3 linked regions of the Homo sapiens genome follow. The protein of the gene in region 2 interacts with the protein of the main gene of each other region in a pairwise test. Each region holds a gene or a part of one and is shown on either strand. Other genes may lie near its edges. The genes, in order: CARD9, PRPF18 and KIFC3.

The links.
Region 1: the proteins of PRPF18 (region 2) and CARD9 interact in binary tests that used the Homo sapiens proteins (3 or more experiments, as listed by UniProt).
Region 3: the proteins of PRPF18 (region 2) and KIFC3 interact in binary tests that used the Homo sapiens proteins (3 or more experiments, as listed by UniProt).

What each region holds. Positions count from the first base shown.
Region 1 is NC_000009.12:136,367,070-136,370,889, reverse strand, and holds part of CARD9 (caspase recruitment domain-containing protein 9), read left to right. Parts: coding exon 1-49; intron 50-188; coding exon 189-368; intron 369-452; coding exon 453-596; intron 597-1,014; coding exon 1,015-1,140; intron 1,141-1,592; exon of another isoform or gene 1,593-3,061; coding exon 3,062-3,253; exon of another isoform or gene 3,254-3,266; intron 3,267-3,632; coding exon 3,633-3,674; intron 3,675-3,820. UniProt on the Homo sapiens protein: Adapter protein that plays a key role in innate immune response against fungi by forming signaling complexes downstream of C-type lectin receptors.
Region 2 is NC_000010.11:13,589,878-13,593,697, forward strand, and holds part of PRPF18 (pre-mRNA-splicing factor 18), read left to right. Parts: intron 1-1,890; exon of another isoform or gene 1,891-1,990; coding exon of another isoform or gene 1,991-2,011; intron 2,012-3,820.
Region 3 is NC_000016.10:57,800,398-57,803,997, reverse strand, and holds the start of KIFC3 (kinesin-like protein KIFC3), read left to right. Parts: upstream 1-1,506; 5' UTR 1,507-1,628; intron 1,629-3,600. UniProt on the Homo sapiens protein: Minus-end microtubule-dependent motor protein. Involved in apically targeted transport. Required for zonula adherens maintenance.

The sequences.
Region 1 (3,820 bases), on a different chromosome or scaffold from region 2:
TGAGGAGAAGGGCGCCGCGCTCATGCGGAACCGTGACCTGCAGCTGGAGGTGCGCCCGCTGCCCCCGGGAAACCAGGCCACCCTCGCCTGGCCTGGCGGGGTCTGCAGGCCGGGGCGGTCGGGGGTGGCCCCACGGGTCTGCGGTCACCGCCTGGAGGGGACAGCCAGGCTCACTGGACCTTCTGCAGATTGACCAGCTCAAGCACAGCCTCATGAAGGCCGAGGACGACTGCAAGGTGGAGCGCAAGCACACGCTGAAGCTCAGGCACGCCATGGAGCAGCGGCCCAGCCAGGAGCTGCTGTGGGAGCTGCAGCAGGAGAAGGCCCTGCTCCAGGCCCGGGTGCAGGAGCTGGAGGCCTCCGTCCAGGTGGGGCCGTAGGCAGGGCAGGTGCAGCCCAGGCAGGGCAGTGGGGGCCTTCCCAGCCAGGCCATTGCCTTTTGCCCCCTTCAGGAGGGGAAGCTGGACAGGAGCAGCCCCTACATCCAGGTACTGGAGGAGGACTGGCGGCAGGCGCTGCGGGACCACCAGGAGCAGGCCAACACCATCTTCTCCCTGCGCAAGGACCTCCGCCAGGGCGAGGCCCGACGCCTCCGGGTAGGAGGGCAGGCGGGGAGACATGGCCCCTGGGGTCCAAGCCAGGCTGGACGGGCTGAGCTCCGCCCACTCCGTGCCTGGAAGGTGGGGTGTGGAGACCCCAGTGCAGCGCCTCCACTCACCCACTCCTGGAGGCACAGTGGACGGTGCCCTCTCCTTGCCCGCCTGCCCCCCATGGCAAAGGCCAACCTCTGGGCTCATGGTGCCTGAGGCACAGCAGTGTCTGAGGCCTGCCGGAGGGCCCTGTCCTGCCGCGGTCTGGAAGTGCAGGGCTGGTAGGGGCCTGGGGACTCCTATGGCCTCCCCCGACATCCCAACTGGCCTGACCACATGCTTCTGAGCCCCTGCCCGGAGTATACCCCAAGGGCCAGAATGGGGGGCCTCAGGCCTGTGGGGGCTGAGCTGCCGCCCCCTGCAGTGCATGGAGGAGAAGGAGATGTTCGAGCTGCAGTGCCTGGCACTACGTAAGGACTCCAAGATGTACAAGGACCGCATCGAGGCCATCCTGCTGCAGATGGAGGAGGTCGCCATTGAGCGGGACCAGGTGGGCACTCGCAGGGGCAGGACAAAGCACCCCACTCGCGGGTGGGTGCACCAGGGCCACGGCCCTTGAGGGCAGTTGTCAGAGGATTTTTAATCTTTGTTATTTGTTTTTGAGATGGGGTCTTGCTATGTCACCCAGGGTGGCCTCAAACTACTGGCCTCAAGCAATCCTCCGGCCTCAGCCTCCCAAAGTGCTGGGATTGCAAGCTGAGCTGCCACACCTGGTCTGTTTTTTAAATGACAGAAGCAATACTTAACACTAAAAAAAAGTAAACGATGATGAAGTCAATACTTCCCCACCCCAGCCTACTGTCAGGGAAAACCGTGTTCAACCTTCCCGCTCCACCTTACAGACTTACCTGTCATCTATCCATGTATCCATCTGTCTATCATCTATCACCTATCTATCTATTTATATATTTGGTTTTGTTTTACAAAAATGGAAACATTCTGTCTTGTTTTACCAGTAGCTTTTTTTAATCTTAAAAAAAGCTTGGCTGGACGTGGTGTCTCTCGCCTGTCATCCCAGCACTTTGGGAGGCTGAGGCGGGCGGATCACTTGAGCCCAGGAGTTCCAGAGCAGCCTGGGCAACACGGTGAGATCCCTGCTCTACAAAAAAATGCAAAAATTGGCCTGGCGCGGTGGCTCACGCCTATAATCCCAGCACTCTAGGAGGGCGAGGCAGGCGGCTCACTTGAGGTCAGGAGTTCGAGACCAGCCTGGCCAGTATGGGGAAACCCCGTCTCTACTAAAAACACAAAAATTAGCCTGGTGTGGTTCCGGGCGCCTGTAATCCCAGCTACTCAGGAGGCTGAGGCAGGAGAATTGCTTGAACCCAGGAGGCAGAGGTTGCAGTGAGCTGAGATCACGCTACTGTACTCCAGCCTGGGTGACAGAGCGAGACTCCGTCTCAAAAAAAAAAAAAATTAACTGGTCGTGGTGGCGCATGCCTGTGGTCCCAGCTATTTAGGAGGCTGAGGCTGCAGCAAGTCACCATTGCGCTATTGCACTCCAGCCTGGGCCACGGGAGTGAGGCCTGCAAGGCCTCCAGTGCTACGTGCTGTGAGCCGGATGGAGCGTCGCGGGGCAGGGCTGTGTCTGCTTCCCATGCCCCGTCCCAAGTCCCATCCTGGAGGTTGTTTCCAATGGACACCATTGCTGCTTCGGCTAAATGCTGGATGGCACTTTGTCCACATCAGGAGCCTTAAAACGAGACCCCTGGGGCTACAAAGGAAGCCCCGGCCCCCATGAGAGCAGCCCAGGCTCAGAGCTCCTGTCTCAGCCCCACCTCAGCCTCACTCGCGCCTGGCCCACGCCAAGGCAGGGGAAAAGGGCAGATCCAGCTGTGCCCCCATGGGGGTTGGTGTGGCTCCCAGGGCGGGGGCTCCCACGGGACTTCCCGGGAGCGCGTTGGCCAGGGATTAGGGAAGCTGCCAGCCGTTGCTCCAGTCTGGGCAGAAGGGGTTAGGTGAGGGCCTCCCAGCCTCGGCTGCAGGGGTGGTCAAGCCGTCGTGTTTGCACATTCGCTCCTGCGTCTCAGTGTCCGCAGTGAGGACAGGGGTGGTAAAGAGTGCTGCGGTCACGAAGGACGCTTAGCTATGGACAGTCAGGGTCTCCATATCAAGCCGCGTCCAAAATTTATCAAATGTGCACGTGTGGGGGTACATAGCACACGCTGTGTCCACCGGGGGTGCAGGCTTGGGAGGAGACAGAAGGGCAGCAGGGACAACTGTCACATTTACAATCCCCCACGTGCTGACTTCGTGTCCGCAGAGCACACAAATGGAGGGGCTGTGACCAGCCTCCGCGCCCAGCGGCTTGACGTCCTCCGGAGCCTCTGCTTGGAGTTGGGCGGCCGGGCCGAGGGCCCAGGGCAAGCTTGGGGCCCTCACTGAGGGTCGGCCTTGTGCTGTCCCGTCAGGCCATAGCCACGCGGGAGGAGCTGCACGCACAGCACGCCCGGGGCCTGCAGGAGAAGGACGCGCTGCGCAAGCAGGTGCGGGAGCTGGGCGAGAAGGCGGATGAGCTGCAGCTGCAGGTGTTCCAGTGTGAGGCGCAGCTACTGGCCGTGGAGGGCAGGCTCAGGCGGCAGCAGCTGGAGACGCTCGTCCTGGTGGGCCTGGGGCCTGCGGCAGGGAGGGGAGCCGGCGCGTGGGATGCAGGGCCAGGGGAGCACGGAGCCTCAGCCCCGGCCTTCCCGACCCAACCCTTCTCTGTGACGGGCCCCAACCTAACCAAACCCCTCCTGGCAGTGGGGTGAGGGCACACGAGCAGTTCAGGGTCCCAGCAGGAAGTGGGGCTGCAGGGCCGGGGTGGGTCCTGGGCCTGGCCATCAGGCAGCCTAGCAGGTTGTTCTGGGCATGGAGGGGGCCTGGTGTGGCTGAGGGCATGCCCAGGGCTCCCTGGAGGATCCCGCTCTGTGCCCTGCCCACCCTGTGCCTGGGGAGCCCTCTGCCCTCACAGCCCACCCACCCCATTTTCTATGACCACAGAGCTCCGACCTGGAAGATGGCTCACCCAGGAGGTCCCAGGAGGTGAGTGAGACCCCAGCCAGCACGAGGCTGGCCTTCCTTCACCTGGGGTCCTGGCTGAGCTGCCACCAGGCATAGCCCCACACTGCCCGTCACATGGCCCTGCTCGGTGGGCTGGGCTGGGTGGAGGAAGAGCAGGTGGCCAAATG
Region 2 (3,820 bases):
TCATATTTGTAAATGTTTTTATGTCTACTGCAGGGACCTTTTGATGAGTGGTTGGGAGTATTTTAAATTTAGGTGTTGGAGTGCATAGTGGATGTTAGGAAGGGCCAGGGTGTTGAAATCTAAGTGCTTTAAAGGGAAAAGTGAATCACAAAATATTCAGCCCACCCTCAAGGTTCACAACATGAATATTTGCATAATCATGTTCTTCGTCATTGAAATGCACCAATCTACAAAAATGATCATTAAAAAAAAAACTTTAGATTCTTCAGGGTCATTTATAATTTATAATATATAAACTTTTCCTGGGTGTCTTTCATTTTTTAATTTGGTAGTTGATTGAATTATCACATAATTCCAGCCAGAAGATAAGATTGATTTTTTCAATCACAGAGCAGTTCAGACCAACAAAGGGCGTACATGAAATGGGAATTAAAATACTGACATTCGGCCGGGCGCGGTGGCTCACGCCTGTAATCCCAGCACTTTGGGAGCCTGGGGTGGGCAGATCACGAGATTGAGACCATCCTGGCTAACACGGTGAAACCCCATCTCTACTGAAAATACAAAAAAAAAAAATATATATATATATATATATTAGCTGGGCATGGTGGCAGGTGCCTGTAGTCCCAGCTACTCAGGAGGCTGAGGCAGGAGAATGGCGTGAACCCGGGAGGCGGGGCTTGCAGTGAGCTGATATTGTGCCACTGCACTGCAGCCTGGGCGACAGAGCGAGACTCCATCTCAAAAAAAAAAAAAAAAAATACTGACATTCATAGTTTATATTAGCAGTAATGTTAGGCATCATGCAATATGTGTTTTCTAACTTGTACAACAAGTTGCCATTGTTCCCATTTACAGATGAGGAAACTGGAAGCTAAGAGAAGTTACATGACTATAGGATTATGCAGCTAGCAAGAGATAGAGCCTGGATTTGAACCCTGGTCTGTTCCTACTTCAGAGCCTGATCTGTTAACCTGTACAGATAGAATGGATATTTATTCACCTTACAAACATAGAACTAGTTTTGATAGGGCTAATGTAACAAAGCACTGGAAAATTATTAGACTAACATGATTTATATTTTTCAAAGTGCTATATGCTATCTGATTTGAGCTTTACAACGGTTAATTAGTGCACAAGGCAATGCTGTTTTCATGGATGATGAAATTGAGGCTTAGAGGGTTACACGATGTTCTCATATTCCTGTGGCCAGCCGGGATAGATCTCAAGTCTTAGACCAACTTGAGGGTGAGTGCTCTTGCATGATGTAAGGGAACATACACAACTAGGCGTCTTTTCTGTTGTATCCATGGGAAGACAGTCTTTAGATCTGCAGCTCTATCATTTCATGCAGAATAGTTGCTTTATATTTTTCATCTTTCTGCATCACAGTGTCTGTCAGTAACTTACAGACTTTTTCACTGCCCCGTTCATAGCAATACATTTTTATATATTGATCTGATATGTATGTGAAAAAAGTTTTATGAAATAATTCTTACAACCACAAATGATTTTATCATGTTTTATTCAGTCCTCCTTTTTTGTTATCAGTTATTTAATTAGGTTCTTCTTAAGAAATGTAGAACACCAATTTGTGAGGATAAATTCCATGAGTCGGGGCAAACACAGATCGCAGGTAGTCCTGGAGCTTAGGAATAGCTTTGATTTTTGGTAAAATTTGTGACTCCACAGCTTTCTGATCAATCTTGTGCTGCTCTGTAATCTTGTATTTATCTTTTTCTGTGCTGAAGATCTCAGCTTCCTGGTGTCTGGGCTTCTGCAGCTGCTGCTGCTTGAATAAGCATCAGTGGGATGTTTTGGGATTTTTACATCGCTGATAACAATTTTGGTTGAGGTGGCAATGACAGATTTCTGGTGTTTTCTTCATAGAGGAACTCGATTGAGGACCAGAGGTCCAGTCACAAGTAACAAGCCACTAGCCAGGTGCTTCAGGAAGACCGCCCTCTTGCCTCTGTGGAATCCAGTGAGGATGATCAGAACGTTCCCCGGGGTAATGCTGGTTCGCAGTTTTCTCACGTGTCAACTGAGGGTTTTTTTTTTTTTTTGCCATGGCTCAACAGCTTTTGAGGCACATCTTCAGTAGGAAAATATCTAGGCATTTTATGAAGTTTAACCACCTGGGTACTACCATTCTTGTCACCACCAACTGGTTTTGTAACAGTTGCAAGAACCTTCTTTTTCTTTTCAACCTCGTACTTAGCGGCTGAGTACTTCCTCTTATACACAGCTTTTCTGGAATACATAGCACATCGGGAATACCTGCCAATTCCTCTGACAAGGACAGGGTTGTGCTGCAATGGGGCTTCCCCTTCTTGGGCTTCTTAGCCTTGAGGTGACCCTTTTTCACCTTGTCACCAGCCTCAGCCTTCTTGGCTTTGGGTTTCTTCTCTTTAGTATCCGGCTTCTCAACTTTTTCACCCACCATCTTACAAGATGGGGAAGAGCAAGTCCCTTTGTTTTAATTTTTTAGAAAACACGGGTCAGGGATCAGTAGATTGTTGTCATTACCGCATCTGTAGCTGGAAAACAGTTGTCTGTGTGGTGTTGCTCTTGCAGAAAGAAGAGCCACCTCATCTTTGGTCATTTCAAGTGGTGTCCCAGCTTTTTGTGGTTAATCTGTGATAGTTGAAATAATCAGTACTTAGCTTGTGAGTGCCTCTTTCTCAAATTGCAGAGAAGTGACTAAGATATCCTCTTACCACCTGTCCTAAAGTGCCCTGCCTGGTGTAACCACCCTGAGGTAAATGTGTCTGCATTGCTAGAACACCAGTGTTTTGGAGCCTAGAATTGGTGAGTTTTCATTTAATGCAAAACCTCGTGTGGAAAACCAGGCTGCTCTAGAAACTCAATGGGGAGTAATTAGTAGTTTTACTAGTTGTAGTTATGAGGATGAGCTATGTGCAGAATTTTAGCTTTTTTTCCTTCCAGTATTTACTGCATCTTTCCTATATGCAAGATACTATGCTGTGCTGCAGTAACAATGCTACAATAATCAAAACAGCATAGCGCTGGCATAAAGAGCAACAGCTAACACCACTAGAGTATAACAGAGCACCCAGAACGGAGCCACCCTTACACAATTATTGATTTTTGACAAATACACTAAAACCAAATGGAAGGAAAGATATTTTCAGTAAATGATGCTGAACAACTGGATATCCATACGGAAATAATAAGCAACAACCCCTACCCCACATTATACAAAACATTCTGAAATGAAGGACCAATGGAAGGAATGGCAGGAACCAACATGGGAGACATTGGAAAATAAAATTAGTAAGGAAAACTGTATACTAGTTCTAATACATTGGAAAATCTAAGTGAAGTAAATGGCTAAAAAGTACAAAAAAATACAAGAAATAGAAAATCTAAGCAAACCAGTAAGTGAGGAAGACATAAGAAGAATCTGTCAGCTAAGAGGAGAAAGTTACTGAAGGAAGGAAGGAATGAGCAGTTAAATCGAAGACTGGATGAGATCAGTCAGAGAAGTCTCTTTGGATTTGTATCTTAGACATTATTTATGACCCCAAGGAGGTTTTTTCAGTGAAACAGAATGGATGTCCACATGCTGTGGGGCTGCAAAGAGAATTGGGGGTAAGGAAGTGGACACGGATTAGATTAAACAGTTTAATGTGGTTCTGCTGTAAATGATACCCAGGGCAGAGTCTTGAGCATACTTAAATTATAATTGTCAAGAGCCAGTAGAGAGGGGAAGGATGAATATGCGAAGGAGAAAACAGCATTGATGGTGAGAAGTCCCTGAGGAATTGAGGTCTGGAGTAATTGGCAAGGGATTTGC
Region 3 (3,600 bases), on a different chromosome or scaffold from region 2:
CATCCCCCGCCCCATCAACTCATAGGGACTATAATCAAGGGAGATAGATACTAAATCAGAATTCTAGAGACATTTTGCCTTCATCCACCCTTGCGGTCCCCTGGATCACTGCTGTTTGGAGGGCAGGCAGAGGAATTCAGAGATCATAACTCCCCAAATAAGGCTTTCTCTCCCATTGGAAGGGTTCTCCAGTGTGGTGTTCAGCTGGAAATCTAACTCTCTAGGGAATGATTCCAGGAGCGTTACATTCACCCTCTATCAGGCCTTCACTGAGGAATCTCAGTTGTCAAATAAAGCATGCACTAGGCTGCTTCCAGCTGGGGGACTGTGACTGTCCTGCTCTGGCGTCCAGAACAATCTGAGGCCCAGGCCCTTGGCTCCGTCGCTGGTCGAGATTCTTGACTGGCAGCCCAGCGCCTGGGCGGCAGCAGGAGATAGAACCCACCTGGAGTTGCCCGACCCCCTCCAGTCCTCTCCTTGATCTTCTTGGGCCATCCCCTGACAAGCAGGAAGGGACAGAGTACCCGCCCTCCTGGGATTATCTGCAGAACCGTCAGCCTGCATGGGCTGGCTTCAGAGTGACTTGCTTTCTCCTCTTCCGCACCCGGGGGTGTGGAGAGTGAGGGAGAATATTGCTGCTGGCTCTGGAATAAAATGCTGCCTCTGTTTGGGAGACAAAGAACAGAGTGGCTCCTCCAGGTCAGCTGTCTCTCCCGGCTGGCAGGCCCCTGGCCTCCCCCAGGCCTCTTCTGAGGCTCTAGGTGCCCCAGTAGCAGGGCCTTCTGCAGCAAGGCCGGGAACTGCTGCACCATTGGTGTGTTTTACCTTAAGGGACTCCAGGCAGCTTCCTTGCTGGGAAGATATTCATTTGCTGGGGTGGGGCTGGGGGTGCAGAGGTAGGAAGTGCTGTGGCTAGAAGGCGGCCTGGCCAGCGAGTAGGTGGTGGAGCGAGTGAGAGCGTGTGCGCTGTAAACAGTGTGAGTGCATGTGCGCCAGCGCGTGCAAGGACACGGTAAGGGATGTACATGTATTGTCTCGTGAGTAAGAGCTTGTGTGTGTGTTGGGATGGGAAGACACGTACTGGTATGAGAGCCCGCGTGAGAAGTGTATGTGTGAGTACTCGCGTGGAAGTTTTGCACTCGGGTTTGAGGCTGTGCAAAAGTACGCATGGCTCACCAGGTGTGGGGCTGTGTGGGCTGCCTCGTGTGTGCCAGCCCGTGTGCAGGCCTGTTTTGTGAGAGCCTTCAGGGAACGCATGAGCACGTGTGCCAGTGCGAGTGCGGGACGCGGGGAGGCGGGAGAGACCGAGTGGGAGGCCCCGCGAAGGAGTGGGAGTGGGAGTGGGAGTGCCGGCGGGAGACCTGCGGGGGCGCGCCCGGGCTGACGCGTGCGCGCCAGTGCGCGTGAGTGCGGGCGCGCGCCGCCGCCCCCCGCCGGGGTCGGAGCCGGTTGCCATGGGAACGCGCCGCGGCCCGAGTTAATCATTTCCTGTGGAAAGTGTGCGGGAGGGGCGCGAGCGGGCTGGCCGAGGAGGAGGCGGCGGCGTGGAGCTGCCTCCTGCCGGCGGGCCGGGCCGGGCCGAGCCCCGGGCGCTGCGGCGACGCCTGGATCCTGCCTCCGCCAGGCCGGTGAGTGGGGGGCCCGGGCGGGCTGGGTGCGAGCGGGGCGCTGGGCTCTGCCCGGCCCGCCGTTTGGGGCGCCGCGTCCGGGCCGGCCCTGCCCTCGGGACCCCTCTGCCCGGACCCGCTATGGGCGCGGGGAGGGAAAGGCCCGGGAGACCCAGCCCTGCGAGGTCCCCTCCAGCGCCGTTCAGCCCGAGTCGAGGACCTTGCTGGGAGCTGGGCACAGGGGCGGCGTGTCCCACGGGATCCGAGCAGCCTCGGGACCCCGTTTGGATTTTATTGAACGAGAAGAGCGCAGACCCTACCCGGGATGGGCTTGTCAATCGGCGCCGCCCTCTCCCCTTCCTGGCGTCTTCCCCACCCCCAGGGCTCCCTGGAAGGCTGCCTTTGGGTCCCTCCCACCACGTCCCTTGGGGAGTTCGCTTTTTCCCTGGCAGGGCCTGGGGCGGGGTGCGCCCGCCCAGAGGTTAGGAAGAAGGGCCTTGGCCGGTGCCCTCCGGGCAGTGAGGAATCGGGCCATTGACAGCCGCAGCAGTTGTGAGGGTCTCAGCAGGGAGGGCGATCCCAGGACCACCCCTTTAAGCCCAGCATTGCTAGTTAGAGCAGAACTCTGGCTGGTGCAGTGAAGGGCCTGGTCCTGGGAGATATTAAAGAGGAAGCTGTGTTTAATTAAATTCTGGAGTACCATTTACTGCCACCCAGCCCCCACCTCCATACCCCAACACTGTCTCAAGATTGCGGGTTGTGGCCACCCCTGGTCTTTCACCTTCCCCGGCTTTTCCTCTGCCTGAACAGGGTGAGCACCCATTCTTTCCCAGACGTGTATTCCCCATGCCCTTGTTAGAGTAGCCGTCTCCTTGACCAGGGAGAGTCATTTGCTAGGAATGCAGTCTCAGAATGGGGCCCTGCATTTGCAGTGAGTGGACTTTAGGGGCACAGGGTGGTGAGTTCTGCTGTTCACAGGGGCACCAGGGAGCAGAGGGTTTGAAATCTAGGTTGCCCTGGAAAGCCCAGGATAGATGATGGTGTGCAGGGAGGTGGCATTCCCTGTACAACTTCCTTGACCTTCTGCCTGCTCTCCCAGGGCGACCAAGCCCTGCTTGCTGCAGTCTCTGAGCAGCTGTCCAGCCTGTCCCCCCAGTCTTTGCAATGTCCCTGATCTAGGGCAGGGGGAGTATTGCAGCTCTGCTGTCCTGGTCTAAACCCAGAGAGGCAGAGACCCTCTTCCCCAGCCAGGCCCTCTGCATTCACCCACCACTGGAGCAAAGTAACTGAAAAATAAAATTTTGGAGCTCTTTGTATATGCCAGTATTGTTCTGAACACTTGGCCTTGTCTAATCTTTAGAGCAACCCTATAAGGTGGTGTTCTCCCCATTTTATAGATGGAGATAATGAAGTACGGAGAGGCAAAGTAATTCTCCCAAGGTCAGACATCTAGTAAACAGGGGAGCCAGGTTCTGAACCAGTCCCACTGCCCTCCCCCACGAATCCTAGGTTGGTAGAAGTCCCCGGACACCAGGTTTCATCTCAGATGCCCATGTAAATGAGAGAGAGTCCTGCTTTCTTGGCCCAGAACCCTGGGCTTAAGATTCCTTGATACTTTTGACCTTCACACCCCTGAGGCTGCTAAATTCAGCTGCTTTTTCCTCTTCGGGATCTAGCACACGCCCTTCCTCTTTCTTCCCGATATCTTCCTGGCTGCCTCCTCCACTTCCCTTCCTGATAACCGCAGAAACGCTATCTCCTCCTGTCCCTGCCCCTCAGACTGAGCTGAGCTGATCTCCCTGAAAGTCTTCTCTGTCCACTGTGGAGTCAGCCTCCAATGCCCTGCACTGTCTCACCTTCCCAGCAGCCGAGACTGCAGATGGACCTGCCTTGCTCCTTCCCTTGCCCATTGGACAGCTGGTCTGCAGGGTTGGTTGTGTGCCCAGCTCTGTGCCAGGCAGCCTGGAGAAGAGGACATTTGGCTGCTCCCCTT